Linked DNA regions of Homo sapiens: region 2 is linked to region 1. The links come from fine-mapping of genetic effects on gene expression. Tissue or cell type: cerebral cortex. Region 1 holds a variant in brackets; the other region holds the start of a gene. All regions are shown on one strand. Distances are from middle to middle.

The links. PIP is the estimated chance that this variant, and not a neighbour inherited with it, causes the effect.
Region 2: GNPAT starts here. The variant in region 1 is fine-mapped to the expression of GNPAT in cerebral cortex (GTEx, PIP above 0.99).

The regions. Positions count from the first base shown.
Region 1 is chr1:231,952,164-231,960,268 of GRCh38, reverse strand. It overlaps DISC1 (DISC1 scaffold protein), which reads right to left. Exons shown (of 13, transcript NM_018662.3): 10 at 1,381-1,441. TSNAX-DISC1 (TSNAX-DISC1 readthrough (NMD candidate)) reads right to left here. Exons shown (of 16, transcript NR_028393.1): 13 at 1,381-1,441. Among named protein-coding and RNA genes, the nearest start is that of DISC1-IT1, 30 kb to the right of the region's middle. The variant G/A (reference allele first, on the strand shown) is at 5,083.
Region 2 is chr1:231,236,391-231,244,495 of GRCh38, reverse strand. GNPAT (glyceronephosphate O-acyltransferase) reads right to left here and starts at 3,284. Exons shown (of 16, transcript NM_014236.4): 1 at 3,040-3,284. The coding sequence starts at 3,117. It overlaps FSAF1 (40S small subunit processome assembly factor 1), which reads left to right and starts at 3,321. Exons shown (of 7, transcript NM_152379.4): 1 at 3,321-3,472; 2 at 5,308-5,639. The coding sequence starts at 3,355. RefSeq lists enhancers at 2,382-3,271, 3,252-3,591.

The DNA.
Region 1 (8,105 bases):
TAAATAAATAAATAAATAAATAAGAAGAAGGTAAAGGAAACTAATGCGTGCCTACTACCAATCACATGAATGCTTTACATATGGTATTTAAATTCACACACCAGCTGGGGAGGTAGGTACCTTTCCTCCAGTTATATAGCTAAAAAAACAAAACAAAACAAACTGAACAGAAAGTGAGCACTTACCTAAGGTTAGGCAGTTTTTATGTGGGAGAGCTGCAATTTAAATGGGTGTCTCTTTACCAATACCCACGTGCTTATGGCTACCACTGGCTGCCTGATAACCTAATGTAACTTACGGTGTGTGCTGTGCTGATGGCTAAAACAATGGCAGCTGCAGTTGAGATCAAGAAGGATGTGCCAGAAATCTGCCCCGAACACATGCGAGAGGAGGAAGGCCAGACTCAGAGCGGAGCATCTGACCCAGGTGCAAGCTCTCCTCATTCTGCTCACCTCTGCTAACCACCTGTGTCATAGATTCTTCCCAAGTCTAGGAGCATGGGAAGCAGGGAAAGATCAATCAGGAGGTTATAGGACGGCTTTCCAAGGATGAGAATAAATCCTGTAGTGCCTTGCTTACCCTGAAGAGTAGGGCTCTGCAAGGCAGGCCCTCTCAACATCTCTTAATGGAAAAGCAGCATTTTAGCTCAAGACAGCGTCCTAGCAGACAAAGGCTTAAGGCATAGCCTATCTAAAGAGTTACTTAACAAATTCCAAAATAATAGCAAAATGGTCTCCATAAAACTAAATGACTTCCAGGGAAGAAAGCGCATATTCCACTCTAGTACTTGTTGCCTTAATTAGGAACAGATTCTGATGACTGGGATTTATTTTCCTAAGCACACATCCACAAAAGCCAGAAACATCTTGTCATGCTGCAGCATCCCTGACATTTCTCAAAGATGAATTCCTAATTGGGTTTTAAAAAAAGCAACCAGAAATTTTCATGCTGGTTTTGATTCAGGATTCAAAACAGAACCTAAGACGTGCATTTCTATATTATTCCAAACCATGTATAAACCGCCTTAAAATCCTTAAGACCCCCCTCAAACACTAAAGTTTAAAAAAGGGAAAAACAGACTAAGGAATGAATTCTGAATTTAATATAGTAAAGAAGATTCTTCTCTTATGGAACATGAAAACTCTCCTGTGATCTCTCCAAGACACTTTTAAACATCTTAATCTACTTACTTTTTAAAAGACAAGATGAGGGCTGGCACCTGCTCTTTCACTGATGGGGTTCAAAAGGCTTTTTTGTGTCTTTCTTTGTTAATTTATTAGAGAAACTGGCCAGCCTTTTTCATCGATTTAACTAAATTCTGTTATAATAAAGAATCTAGATGTGCTACGGAGTCTGAAATACAGAAATTATTATCCTTACCTGCACAGTTTATTCTTAAGTGTTTCCATGTACTTCATAGTATTTTCCTTCACACTTGTTTCTGGGGGAAAAAAAGGAAATCCAAAGTTAATGCAACTGCAGTCACAATTGAATAAAAACCATTCAACTAAAAGCTCAAAGCCAAAGGATTGAGGTCAAGCCACTAGTAATCGTAACATTCTATGTTTGGAAAACACTCAAATCCACTGGAGTGGCTGCCTGAAGTCATGAGTTGGGGAGGATTCCGGGGCTCTGAGTGTCTCTGCAGGAGAAAGTCAGAGGCTGGAGCAATAGCGCTGAGCCAGCCTTGCTGTAGTCTTTAAAAAGCAGCTCACTGATAGTCTATCACTGGATGACATGTGCTCTATCTCTTACCTTTCCCAACTGATAGCCATTGGCTCGGTTGTCCAATACAGGGAAAGAGAACCTGACAGTGTAATGATTCCCATCCTACAGATGAACCAGAAGAGCCACACTAGGGGTAGAGGAGGATTGTGGAACCTTTCATTGAGAAATAAACATAAACATGGGATTCTGCCAGTAACTAGAAATCAACTGCTCAACATCCAATGAGTGATGAGATCAGCTACTCTTTGAGATAAACTCAGCGCTTCCTAATTACCAAATGTTGAAGGAATGAATGATTGCTATGGTTCAGCAGATCAAAGAGGCACTTTACGGATAAAAGAGATTTGATATACTTTGAACAAGTTCTCCCCTTTTGCTCATCCGAGGAATGAAGGTGCCTTCCTCTCAAGATAATAACTAACAGACGTGCACACCAAGTGCCTGGAAGAACACCTGCAGCCAAGGGGTTTCTAGCAAATGGTGGCTGGAATTATCAATGGTGCTGCCATGTCTATTACTAGTATTATTATTGTTATTGTGGGTTTTATCATTGTTTTTATTACAACCTTTATTCTGAAGGGTTATTTATGCTGAAGGGCTCATGTACTCTAAAGTTGGAGAATGTGGAAACACAGAAGCCAGGCTGCCCAGATTCATGCTACTGGAGTGTCTGGGGATTCTTAGACTTCTATTTCAGTCAACGTGTATGTGTAAGGTGAGGGACTGTGGAACTGGAAAAAGTACCCTGCCATTCCTCATAAAGAAACTAAATATTTAGATGGAAATTAAAACAATTAAACATTCTGGTTCATTAGTCCATAAAAGATAAAAAGAGACATTTACACAATGAAAACAACTGTTTAAGTTGGTATCTTTTTTTATTGACTTATGCTGGTCTAACACACAAACTTAGTTGTGCTAGCTGGAGCAATTATTGCAAATTCCAAATGCCCAAACCAGAAACGCCCTCTCTGTTTCACATCCCATACATATTTATGTGCCACACACTGTTCTAGGCATGTGAGATAGCTCAGTGGACAGAAGAGGTAAAGATTCCTGCTTCTGTAGTGCTTCCATTCTGGCAGCAAGGGATGCTAAAGAATAAACATAAAAATTCCATAAAACATTAGAAGGTGGTAATGACAATAAGGATTTAAGGGGAAAAAAAAAGACAGCAAGTGAAAAGGGGCTGTAGAGTGGTCAGGGAAGGCATCACTGGGGAAATGACACTCCATAAAAGTTTGCGGAGGGAGGGAAGAGGGCATCAACAGGCATCTTGTGAATGGAGTAGGCAGTCTGAAGGCCCCAGGGCAGAAGCACATCTGCATGCTCTAGCAAGTGTGGCCGGAGCCAAATGTTCCATAGGGAGAAAAGATGAAGGCAGAGAAACAACCCAGGTCCAATCAAGCGGGCCACTGTGGTAGACTATAGTCTCAAAATGGCCACAGCAATATTTCTGGTACCACATACTCTTCCAGAACCTTGCCACTCCCTATCAAGAGGTAAAGACTATTTCCCTCTTCTTGAATGTGGACAGGCTGTGACTGCTCCAACCCACTGAGTATGATGGAAGGGATTCTATAACTCTTCTGAGGCTAGAGTCCAGTTTCTGCGTGGCTCTCTGTCCTGGGAACCCAGCCACCATTTTGTGAGGAAGCCCAAGCCACATGGAGAGGCCCTGTGTAGGTGTTTAAGCTGAAAACCTGGGTGATGGTCTTAGAATACATCCAGCACCAACCTCCAGATACCTGAGTGAATGAGCTTTCAGGTGGTTAGTGCCTCTGAGTCTGAGGGACCCAGACATCGCAGGATGGAGACAAGTCCCCCCCACTATACCCTGTCTGAATTCCTGACTCACAGAATTTTGCACATAATTAATGGTGATGTTAAGTCATTAAGTTTGGGGATGTTTTGTTGCACAGCTGTAGTAACTAGAAAGCCACTATCAGGATTTTGAGTGTTCTGAGTGGAATGGAAAAACACTGTAGAAGAAAAAAATGAGATTGACCTACAGCAACTATGTTGAGAATACACCATAAGGGAGGATGGGGTGGAAGCAGAAAGACATGGAGGAGGTTAGTGCAATCGTCCAGGAAAAGATGATGGAGATGTGGAGGAGGAAAAGTAGAATATTTTTTCTCACCCATCACCAGGGTCATGGCTGACACCCCTATAACAAAAGACAGGTTAACAAGAGAAAGGCATGACAAATTTATGTGACCAAAGTTTTATGTGATATAGGAGCCTTCAGAGATGAAGACCCCAAGACCCAGAGAAAACTGTCTATTTTTGTGCTTAGGTTCAATGAAGCATATGAAAAATGGACAGCTGTGTAGAAACGTGATTGGACAAAAACATGATCTAATGGTGATAAACTGGAGCTCAGCATGGCTGTTTGTTCAGAATCTCCTTGGCCTCTGTGTAGCATTCCTTCCCTCCACATTGGGGGGCAGGGCAACTGTCACATAAGGGTCTTATGCTCACCTTTCAGGGAAGGTAAGCAAGAGAGTCCTTTAAGATCAGCTCACACAGAAAGACAGCAGATGGTCAGAGTACCCTTTCTGCTTCTGCTGTTTTCTCAGTTTCCAAGGTGCTGTACTTTGTAGTATCATATTCTATGTCCCAATAGGGACTTAAACTAGTGCATTAGCAGGAGTTAGTGATAAGTGGGCAGATTTTAGATATATTTTAAAGGTAGAGACAATAGCTTTCCTGGTGGGTCAAATGCCAGGTGTAAGAAAAAGAAAAGTTGGCTGGGTGCGGTAGCTCACACCTGTAATCCCAGCACTTTGGGAGGCTGAGGTGGGCGGATCACCTGAGGTCTGGAGTTCAAGACCAGCCTGGCCAACATGGTGAAACCCCGTCTCTACTAAAAATAGAAAAATTGGCTGGGCGTGGTGGTGGGTGCCTGTAATCCCACCTAGTTGGGAGGCTGAGACAGAAGAATCCCTTGAACGTGGGAGGCGGAGGTTGCAGTGAGCCGAGATCGTGCCACTGCACTCCAGCCTGGGCAACAAAAAGCAAAACTCTGTTTCCAAAAAAAAAAAAAAAAAAGTCAAGAATGACTACAGATTTTTACCCTAAGCCACCAGAAAAAAAACAGAAATTGCCATCAACTGAGATGGGAAGAATGAGAAGTGAAATGGGTTTGGGGAGACAAGAATTTGGCTTTGGATTTGTTAAATTTCAGAAGTTTTTAGAAATTCAGTGGAGATGTCAAGTGTGAGGTTGGATATCTGAGTCTGGAGTTTGGGAAAGTTCTGGAACAGAGACATTTGGGATTGGCGTTTGAAGCAATGAGACTGGACAGTATCACTAAGGAAGTGGGAGTAACTTAAGAAGCCCTTGCTGATC[G/A]TACGCAACGCGCCATTTATATTGTGATAGCACCTTCTATCCGATGGACAAAAATGGACACACCACCTGAAGAAAAGAAAGCCATATTCTTATGTTTAAAAAGAATCTAGATGTCTATCAAGTTAATCACTTTGTTAAGAAACTGAATGCTAAGTATTTGCCTCATCTCAGTGTCTGAAGCACCAGTTGGTGACACGCTGGACCTGCACAAGAACTTCCAGGCAAAGCCATGGGCTTTTCTTCTTGCCTGGAGGCTGCCATCTAAGGAGAATGCTATGTTGAACTATTACTTTCTTTGGACCCAACTTATCTCCCAGCCAGACAGCCTAAAAGTACCTTGCATGTATTCACTAAGTTGACTCACAACCTTCAAGACAGGCCAAGACTGTAGACAGGGAGTTTAGATTTTAAACTTCCGAATCAATACAGCCACAGACACGCTGACGGAGAATAGAGCTCACCTTTTCCTCTCTTCTTACTCCCCTCCTCTTCCTTTCTTCCCTACCATTTTAGGTCCAGTAGAGCAGGGACCTATGAGAATGGCAATGGTAGTAAGGCAAGGTTCCAAGAAGCAAAGAGGGCGCTCAAAGAAATGCTGAATACAAAATGAAATGCTACGAAACAAACAAGACCAGAGGACTGCAGACCCCCTTCCTGATCAGGAAGAAGCAGGAACACATTCACTGTTTCTGTTTATTAAGGGAATCTGATATTCAGGTTCAGGCCATGATAACAGAGTGGAATTCATACAATTAGTTTGATGAATCCAATTAAACAAAAACTTGGATTAACAGATTGATAATTAAATGCCATAAATCAGTGAAAACAGTAGAGTGCATGAAACACACATCATGCTACAGGAGTTCAATCTGGGTCCTCCTTCATGCAAGACCATATACTTGGCACTAATTAAATAGAAAAAGGACACGGCTTCCAGGGACACAGAGATAGCTGTGGGACCAGCCTCTTTAACACTGATTTCTCACTGGAGTGCACAGCAACATTTTCCATAAATATTCATCATAACCAATAATCCAAAAATATCCCTATGAGTCTGATGGGAAAAAAAATAACCAAGCTACCCAGCAACAGCTTTTTCAGTGTAAACACGGAAGTTGGAAGGTAGAAGAATGTCAACACGGAAGGTAGGAGAATGTTAAGTGGGAGGAAGTCCAACGAGGTTTCAATGAATTGTATCCCTTGCATAAGGGGACAGCAGTATTTGACATGAAAATAGCATGGGAAATGAGTAACACCCAGGCAGACTTGCTATCAGATTGAATGGACCAGTGATTTGAAGAAACTCCAGCCCCACCACCCTCAATTAATAAGGAAGGCATCCTCAGACGGGATCAGTACGATACGATCTCACCTTTGAAAATGGAAGCCAAAGGGACCTCCCCAGTTTAGCATTAATGGCAAAGTTTGTCAAACATTAGCCACGTTATTGGAATTTTCTAAATTAACATTAAGTACCAAGTGAGACCTGGCCTACATTTATGAAAATAAGTCATCAGATTTCAAAGATCAATATTCAAGAATCAATTTAGATAAAATTAACTCCCACTTAGTAAAATCTTTCAGAAGGAAGATGTGAAAGACAAAGGAGAAATTTTAGAACTCTGAGAAATTTTCAAATATCTAAGGTATTATGCTGTCTTCGAGTGAATGAAAGAACCTTTGTTCGGATAATTAAATCATGCATGAGGATGAAGAGGTAACATAATCCTGAAAAGACCCAGGAAAGTCAGCAATACAGGAAAATGGACTTGCAGCTGGAATGTCTTGGCAGGTAGGATGGCATAAGATTGTGTAAGTCCTTGAAAGATGGTAGATTCTTTCCATGAAGTCCTACGTGAGTGAAATTTCACACTGAAGGGCAAAATGGAAATATCAACCATGAACCCCTAAAACCTAGAGAGTTTTGTCTGCTCATACGCAAATGATATTGACTGTCACATTGGAGACCCACTGTGGGGACACGCGTGATATCAATTTAGCTACCATTTTACTGAGCACTTTCTTTTGCAAGACCTGTTTTAAACACCTTATTCTAAACATGAACTAAATAATAGTATCAGTGAAGCAGCTCTACCATTATCACCATTTTACAGTTGGTTAAATGGAGCAGCAGTAAGGTTCAAAGTCACACTGCCAGTAAGGGATAGTTCCAGAGCTCATTGTTACAAAACACATGACTTCAACTTCATATAACATGACAGCAGTTAGTGCACATGAGATGTGAAATCTCAGCACCAACAAAATGAAGCAGGTGTTCAAAGACACTAAATTCAGGGGAGGCCAAAGGCTGTGCTGTAAAAAGTCAGAGTTACAAAGAGTACTGACCATTGCAAAGACCAGCCATCAATAAATGAAAATCTCATTGTTTGTAAAATGTAGGGAAGAACATTACTAGTATATCAGCATAAAATAAATCTACATTGTGTAAAATAAGTTTATATATATATATACATATATATATATATATATATATAAACATATATATATGAGAGACAATAGGCCAAGGTGATTTCAAAGTAGGTTGCAATGAGAAAATGATTAACAACTTTCTAAAGCATATATCTACATTGGCTCTTTCTCCCCAGTGAGAGGTTAATTGTGTGATTTTACTAAAAGATTTTGATTTGCATGTATAAATTTATTTATTTGCAGCATTTCAAATATAGCATTCTGCTATCACCTATCTGTGGTAGTTCTAGTTTAGCTAGAACTCTCAAGAGAGGATTTCTGAGTTCAACAGAGTTCAGTCCTTCCCAGGCTTTTGACTACTCAATATAAATTCTCTAGATCCAGAGCCAAATAAATGCATCATTACCAAACTAGCAAGGGATTCATTTCTCATTGTCAGGGCATCGTTCAGTATGTTGTTGTTAATTCTCTGTCTCTTTTTCTCTGATGTTGATAAGATGTTTACAGAGAGAAGGAAAATTAACAGATATGAGTCCTACTGATTTAATAAGTGGTAACAGGGAAAGGGTTTCTCTTTGGAGTTATACCTGACT
Region 2 (8,105 bases), 720 kb after region 1:
ATCATAGAAACCCAACAGTGAACTTCAGACTATGCTATTTTCCTTAGCCACCACATTCAAATGGTTCCAAAGGATGATGATTTACTGTCCTAAATATCACATAAATTCATCAATTTCCCTTCTTCCTGGGCTCACTGTTACTGCTTCATTACTTCTCTGGATTACTGCAATAGCATTCTAACTGATCTCCACTTTTATGCATCAGATTCCCTACCCAACCTGATTCTCTTCCTACAGTCTCTACTTAGGCAAAACAGGTTACCTATACAGATAATCACACCAGAAACCTATAGTCTTCTCAGACTTTCAAAAATATAAATGTACTTTGGAAGGCCAAGGCAGGTGGATCACTTGAGACCGGGAGTTCGACACCAGCCTGGCCGACATGGTGAAACCCCGACTCTACTAAAAATACAAAAATTAGCCGGGTGTGGTGGCAGGCAACTGTAATCCCAGCTACTTGGGATGCTGAGACAGGAGAATCTCTTGAACCCTGGAGGTGGAGGTTGCAGTGAGCCAAGATTGTGCCATTACACTCCAGCCTGGGTGACAGAGTGAGACACCATGTCAAAAAAAAAATACATATACACACATATATTTATATATATATGTGTATACACACACACACACATAGATGTAAGATTAAAATCTCCCATAAAGTTAAGATTTTATCCCTAAGGATATGTAAACACGACACATAAAATTTCTTTAGGAAATATCTGCCTACTTCCTTACTTTGTTTCTCATGTCTCCTTTCTTCCACCCAAATCTAACTAATTCTAACCCCAAATATGCAAGGGAGTAGTTTTTTTTACATCAACATCTAGGACAGTTTTCCTCTCCCTCATCTGCCATTCACAGCTCAAAAACTCAGCTCATGCCAGGCACAGTGGCTCATGCCTGTAATTCCAGCACTTTGGGAGGTGAGTAGATCACTTGAGGTCAGGAGTTCAAGACCGGCCTGGCCAACACGGTGAGACCTTGTCTTTACTAAAAATACAAACATTAGCAGGGCGGGGTGGCGTGTGCCTAAAATCCCAGCTACTCGGGAGGCTGAGGCAGGAGAATCGCTTGAGCCCCGGAGATGGAGGTTGCAGTGAACCAAGATCGAGCCACTGTTCTCCAGCCTGGCAACAGAGCAAGGCTGTCTCCAAAACAAAACAAAAACAAAAACAAAAACAAAAAAGGAAGATCAGCTTAGATATCACCTTTTCTTAGAAACCTTCTCCAAGTTCCCAAACTGGTCAGGTGCCCCTTCTTGTCTCTCCCACAACACGCTGTGCATGCTTCAATCATTGCCCTTACCATACTTAACTGTGATTGTTTGTTTACTTTTATGACTTTTTGTGCCCTTAAAGGCAGAGCCTGCATCTGTAACTTCTATATCTTGGAAACTGAGAATAATGAGTAGGATACTGTATATATTCCTAATGTTTGCTGCAATCAGCAGTATCTTCTACGCTTCTAAAGTGCTACTTTTAGATCAGAATATTACACAATAACAGCGTAGCTGGGGAAATAAAAACAGCCTGAAGTACTAAGAAAAAGTAAGGTTACCGTGGAAGTAAAGGTTATCCAGTCACAAAACAGTAGTGAGAACTACCAGTAAAGAGTGGGTTGCTGTCCAGCATCAGAACTACAGAATGCTCAGATACAACTGCCATAGTTTTTCACATGAAAAAGTGGACTCAAGTCTTATTAAAGAACCGTTGGTAAAGGGGAAGTAAAACAAACAAACAAACAAACAAAACCAACTCCTTCCTTTAATGTACAAAAGGAAAATTCCAACCAATTCACAAACCAGTTGGGAGCTTAAAAAGCTACATGTTAAAAGCTGGATCTGCACAGCAACCCTCTTCCCTTCGTGCCTGCTCTGGAGTAGCAGAGTCAGAAAACAAAGTTGATATCCACCACAGAACTGTGGGGAAGATAAGATCAATGAAGAGATATATCTAAATAATAAGGCTTATAGGCAGTTAGCAATCAGAAACCGAAAGGTCTTGATAGAGAGGGAACAGAAGTTTCTCCATGTTCCAAAGAATATTGGTGTCTCAATTTGAAGGAACCCATATATTCTCTTTCAAAACTGGGGTGTTTATCTTGCTCTGCTGTGTTATCCCTGTTTTGACCTTTCTGCACAAATGAACACTACATTTAAGCCAAAATTGGACAGTAATCACCAGGATATGCTAATATGCTTTTAAAATGAATTCTTTCATTTTCTCCTAAAGTAGCTAAAAACTAATTTAGTGGTTAAAAACAACAAGAAACAAACAAAAACCAAACCAGTTGCCCCAGGTCTGTGCAATCCTGAAGGCTATAAAGCTCCCATCTCATAATTTCTTCATGAAAATCGTGGGTGACCAACATCTGCCAGCCAAAAAGACCCGTTAAAACCAAGAGAGGAAGAGGGGGTTGGAGGAAAAAAAGACAAGCGGGAGAGAAGCTGGGTGGCGCTGGCTGTCCTCCAAAATGATTTGTGGAAAAGGTACAATAATGACTGGAAGACAAGAACAGGCAATAAAAATGTCTAGAAGTTCTAAATTTTCCTGAAGTGTTTAAAACTCTATTCCCACATACAAGCCAAGTGCTCTACTCCCAGGAATATAACAGCAGCATAGGGCGGGGTGCGGAGCCACAGGCTATCTCAGGGCGGGTCAAACCCGCAAGTTTCTCAGGTTTGCCCAAAAGGTAGCTCGACATGCCCTCGCTAGAGATGGGGAGACTCCAATTCTCATTCCTCATTCTCGTGTCCAGGAGCTTTCTGAAGGCCCCAGGGCCTGATAGAAAGAAAGAGAAGGAAAAAGTGGAAAGGAACCAAAGGAACCATAATCCGTAGAAACTTCCAAAAGCATGCACACACAGACACACAGCGATACACTGTTGTCCTGGAAACCAATCCAACCAACTAACCCCTCCTCGGGAGCCTAGGGGCCAGCTCTTTTGGGCAAGGGTGGTGGGCCGGAGGAATAGGGACTGGGAGAAAGGGGTACTATTTCGCGCGGCTCCGCTCTGGGCCTCTTTTCCCTGGGCGCCTACCGAGTAGAGGAGCACGACAGCGCTGGGACTGGTTGGGCCAACGGAGAAATAAGAGTTAGATGAACTGGAAGACTCCATGGTGCGGCTGCCTTCCCGGGCGGGGTCTGGGATTCTTTGCTAAGCCGTGGTGGTGCTCCTGCTGGGGGCGGTTCTTTCGCTCAGGACGGCCCTACTTCGCCTAGGGCGGCGGCACCCTCTGCAGCCGCTACACAGGATCCCGGGCGCCGCCATCTCAGCCAGGACGGAAGCCGCGCAGGGCCCTGCAGCGCATGCGCGCAGTCGCGGAACCCGGAAGCGGGGGTGCAGCGCGGCAGAATGAGGGTTGATTCCTCGGCTGACCCCACAATGTCGCAGGAGCAAGGGCCGGGGTCCTCCACGCCTCCCAGTTCTCCGACACTTCTTGACGCTCTGCTCCAGAACCTTTACGACTTTGGTGAGTGCGGGGTCCCAGGAGCCCACGTGGAGAACAGATTTGAGGAACGTGGGTCTCCTGTGTTGCCCGTCCTGGGTTGGCCTCTGCTTTGAGGCTAAAGGTTCTTGCATGTCAAGCACCCTTCGTCCCACCTGGTTCCAGTAGCGAACACATTTCTCCATCGGAAGTCACCCCTCGACCGGGCTCTGCTGAGTTATTCATCAAACCTTCCAACTCGTCCCCAAGTGTGGGGACCATCCTACTTGCTTGTAGGAAGCACCAAGGCTTTCCGATTTAAAAGTAGCCCGCTTTTCCACGTTTTCTTGAGCCCTGGGAAGTCCCCTTTCCCCATGCCACCCCCAAGACCTGCCTGACCCTGGTGCGATGGTGTCATTTCGCTCTGGGGCCTCGGGCCTGTTGGATAATACACCAGCTTCATCCTTGTGTGTCCCTCTCCAGAGACATCATAGTCCTTGGCGAGTTGTCCTTTTCACGACTTTTTTTTTTTTAAACAAGTGCGCTGATCTTTTACTCTCCGTTCTTTGTCTTGATGGGGGAAAAGGAAAATAAAAGAGCCTATTAAAGTCGCATGGCATGTCAGTAGGAAGACAGTGCCTCATACTCTGAAGAGCTTTCCCGGGAGAAGGTGACACCCTTTGCACATGCACCAAAGAAAATCATTAGATTTCAGGACAACACACATTTCTTAAATTTACAGCGTGATATTTTAAAAGCTATTTTTATTTTGGAATGACTGCTCAAAATTCTAAGTTCACCTAAACAGTAGGAATAATAGTTAAAACTGTTGAGAACTTGCCATATAGCACATGCTTTTCGTGTATTTGCTCATTTAATTTTCAACTTCATGAAATAGACACTGTCATAAATCCATGATTGCAGATGTAGAAACAAGTACTAGAAGTTCATGAAACCTGATGCAGGTTGTCTGACTGGTAATTTTTGCAGAGCCTGGGTTCTGATTCTAGCCCCAGACCCCATGCTTGTATTAACTAGCATTTCTGTGCCCTTGGACATATTGGAGGACAGAGAAGACTTAGTCTCTGACCTTGAGAAGTTTAAAATCTAGAGGAAAAGACTATTCTGCAAAATAATATAGTTCATGTCAACACAGGCTGGAAATCATGGTAGGAGCTCTGAAGGCATTGAATGTGTCTATTCATTTTTATATCCTTAATGCCAAAGTTTAGTTGGCTCTTAAATGTTTATTGTATAAAAGATTAAGCAAATAGTAGCAAGCATAAATCAGCAGCTGGTAATTTAGAGAGCTCTGTGGTATTTGTAATACATGTGAGTAAGGATGCCTAGGATTCTGGTTAGAACTTTCAGGTGACTGGTCAGAGCTTCAACAAGTGAAATATAGAAAGAGGAATTAATAGAAAACAAAGGCATTCAAATTGAGCCAGTTGTCTTAGGTTCATCTTAATTCCTAACTGTGAAAGAAAATAGGAAGACTATTCCATGTTCCTGTAACCCAGAAAGTGTTAAAAAGAAACAGTGGCTGCAGTGCCTGATATTTTTAGTATAAAGCCAATTGGGATTACCAGCCCTGGGGACTATTGCTGTGATGACACTTTGAGTAGGAACCAAAGTGGAGACTAAAGTGATTGTGCTAATAAGGGTCAAAGACATAGTTACCTAGGAAAAGATGACTACATTTTGGATTCTCTGCATTTTGCAAATACACTTATTTGAAAGAAAACAAATAGTTTATTTCTTTGTGTGTGCTTCTAGGTGCATATAGCCCTGGAATATGTACAAATACATTCGTAGGATTTGATACTGATGATAGCTAAGACTGAAAATATTTATTTTCCTTCTTGTGTTTGAACAAACAGGAGGTACAGAAGGTGAAACAGAACAGAAGAAGATCATAAAGAAAAGGGAAAACAAGAAGAGAGATGTGATGGCTTCAGCGGCCTTGGCAGCAGAGCCATCTCCCCTACCTGGTTCTCTCATAAGAGGCCAGAGGAAGAGCGCTTCGAGCTTCTTCAAGGAACTTAGAGAAGAGCGGCATTGTGCTCCTTCTGGGACCCCCACAGGACCAGAGATCCTTGCTGCTGCAGTTCCTCCCTCTTCCCTAAAGAACAATAGGGAACAAGTAGAAGTGGTAGAATTTCACAGCAATAAAAAAAGAAAATTGACGCCAGATCATAACAAGAACACAAAGGTAATGAGTTGGTTAGCTTATATATACGTGGTGAACCCCCTGGTATTGTAGTATTAGGTGAATAGCTCTTTAGACTGTGGCAGGAATGCCTGACTATCCTCAGGCCTGCAGATTTGCCAAAAGGACTCACAGGACCCAAGACTCAGCATATAGCCCTTATCAGTCATGTAGGCCTACAGACTGACCTTAGTTATTCAAGTTCTAGACCTCCAGTGAAAAGCAGGTATTCACCATCAATCACATTGCTAGTATAAACTGTCTGGGAAAACTTGGTACAGCAGTGGCTCAAGACCTCAGGTATGCAAAAACACTCTGATCAGGCAGAATATTCTAATTGCTCAATTCTCAGGAGGCAGCCAACTGCCAGTCATGAAAATAGGACTTTCTTGGGAATGTGCAGGGTTTGGTAAACACAGGCCTGCTGAGTTAACTCTTACAGCAACTCTTTCTGGCATTCCTGTTATGTGCTAGCCACAGTTGTAGGCACTGGGATATAGCAGTGAACCAAATGTATAGAAATTCTTGCTCTCGAGGAAAAGCAATGCTGGTGGAAAAGCAATTTGATTTTTCTGAGCAGTAATCTTTTTCAGAGTGAGCTTGTAAATCTCACCTAAAATTCAGTCCCCAAGGGAGGTGTGGTTGCTCCTCCAAATGTTTTTAATTTTTTTTTTTTTTGAGACGGAGTCTCGTTCTGTTGCCCAGGCTGGAGTGCAGTGGCACGATCTTAGCTCATTGCAAGCTCCACCTCCCAGGTTCATGCCATTCTTCTGCCTCAGCCTCCCAAGTAACTGGGACTACAGGTGCCTGCCACCACGCCTGGCTAGTTTTTTGTATTTTTAGTAGAGTCAGGGTTTCACCATGTTAGCCAGGATGGTCTTGATCTCCCGACCTCGTGATCTGCCCGCCTTGGCTTCCCCAAATGCTGGGACTACAGGCGTGAGCCACTGCGCCTGGCCCCAAATGTTTTTAATTTATCTATTCACAAGAATATCATAATGGCTTTGACAAATTCATTGCTATTCCATTTCTGTAACATCCCCCACGTCCTGCAAACCTTTGTCTATCAACAAAGAAGTGAGGATTGAACGTATTAGTTTCTAAGCCTGCTATAACAAATTACCACAAACATGGTGACTTAAACCAACAGAAATGTATTCTCTTACAGTTCCGTAGTCCAGAAGTCCAAAATCAAAGTGTTGGCAGGGCCATGCTCCCTCTGAGGGCTTTGGGGGAGAATCCTTTGCCTCTGACCAGAAGGTAGCTCTAACAGTTTCCTTGGCTTGTGGTTGCATAACTATAATCTCTGCCTCCGTCTTAATGTGGTTTTCATCCCTGTGTCCCTGAGTCTCATGTTTCCCTCTGCCTTCCTCTTTGCTTTAGGCCCACCCTGAATCTGGGATGATCTCCTTTTGAGATGTTTAATTATAAAGATCCCTCTCCAAGTAAGATCACATTCACAGGTTCTGAAGAGGAGTAGGACATGGCCATATGTTTTTAGAGGCCACAATTCTACCCACTACGAAGATGGTTTGGCTTGCATTGTTCTTTATGAATGTATAAATGTATGTTAGTGTCCAGTGTTTGCCACATCTTTATGGTTTTAAAAACCATCTGTATAATCTTTTCTAAAATTCAGGTAGCATTTCATATCAAGCTTGCTGGCATCTCTTCCTCAAAGATCGTTAGCGCATTCTGCAGGCTGAGCGTGGTGGCTCACGCCAGTAATCCGAGCACTTTGGGATGCCAAGGCCAGAGGATTGCTTGACTTCAGGAAGTCGAGACTGCAGTGGGCTGTGATTGTGTCACTGCACTCCAGCGGGGGTGACAGAGCGAGACCCTTTCTCCAAAAAAAAAAAAAAAGATTATTAGTGAATCTGTAACCATGTCTACCTTTATTTTAGGATTCTAGATAAGCTTCTTAACTCTTATGTTCCAAATATAAGGCTCTGGGAACTGTTACGGGAGGGTCAAGAAATGGATTCCCTTGGTGTTTGGGGCAACCAGAGCCCCGAAGCTGGCCATCTCCCAGTACCCCAGTGTACCCTACAAATACTGGTATTTTCTGTATGTGTCATGATATGAAAAATGTTGGTGAGCACTGCTTTGCAATATAATTCAGCATTTGAAGACTTCAACTAACATAAAGCATTTAGGCACCCTTTCTTGTTTCTTCAAATGTCTCAGACTTCAGTTTCCTCTTATATTCCCTCATGTTCTTTTTTCTGGAATGGAAAGTTTTCTTTTTAATAGAAAAGACAGAAGAGTTGGGATTGAATGAGTCTGCATTTCCCTGTTGCTTAATAATAGAACATCTGTGGCAGTCTGTCAAATTGTCTTTTGCTTCCCGTTCCAAGCGAGCCCTGATGCATTCTAGTTGGCTCTTCTCAGGAGCCTCAGCTCACTCTACGTTTTGAACTTCCTGACCTTAATGAAAATTTTCATTTGTCATTGCTGCTCTCTGCCCTT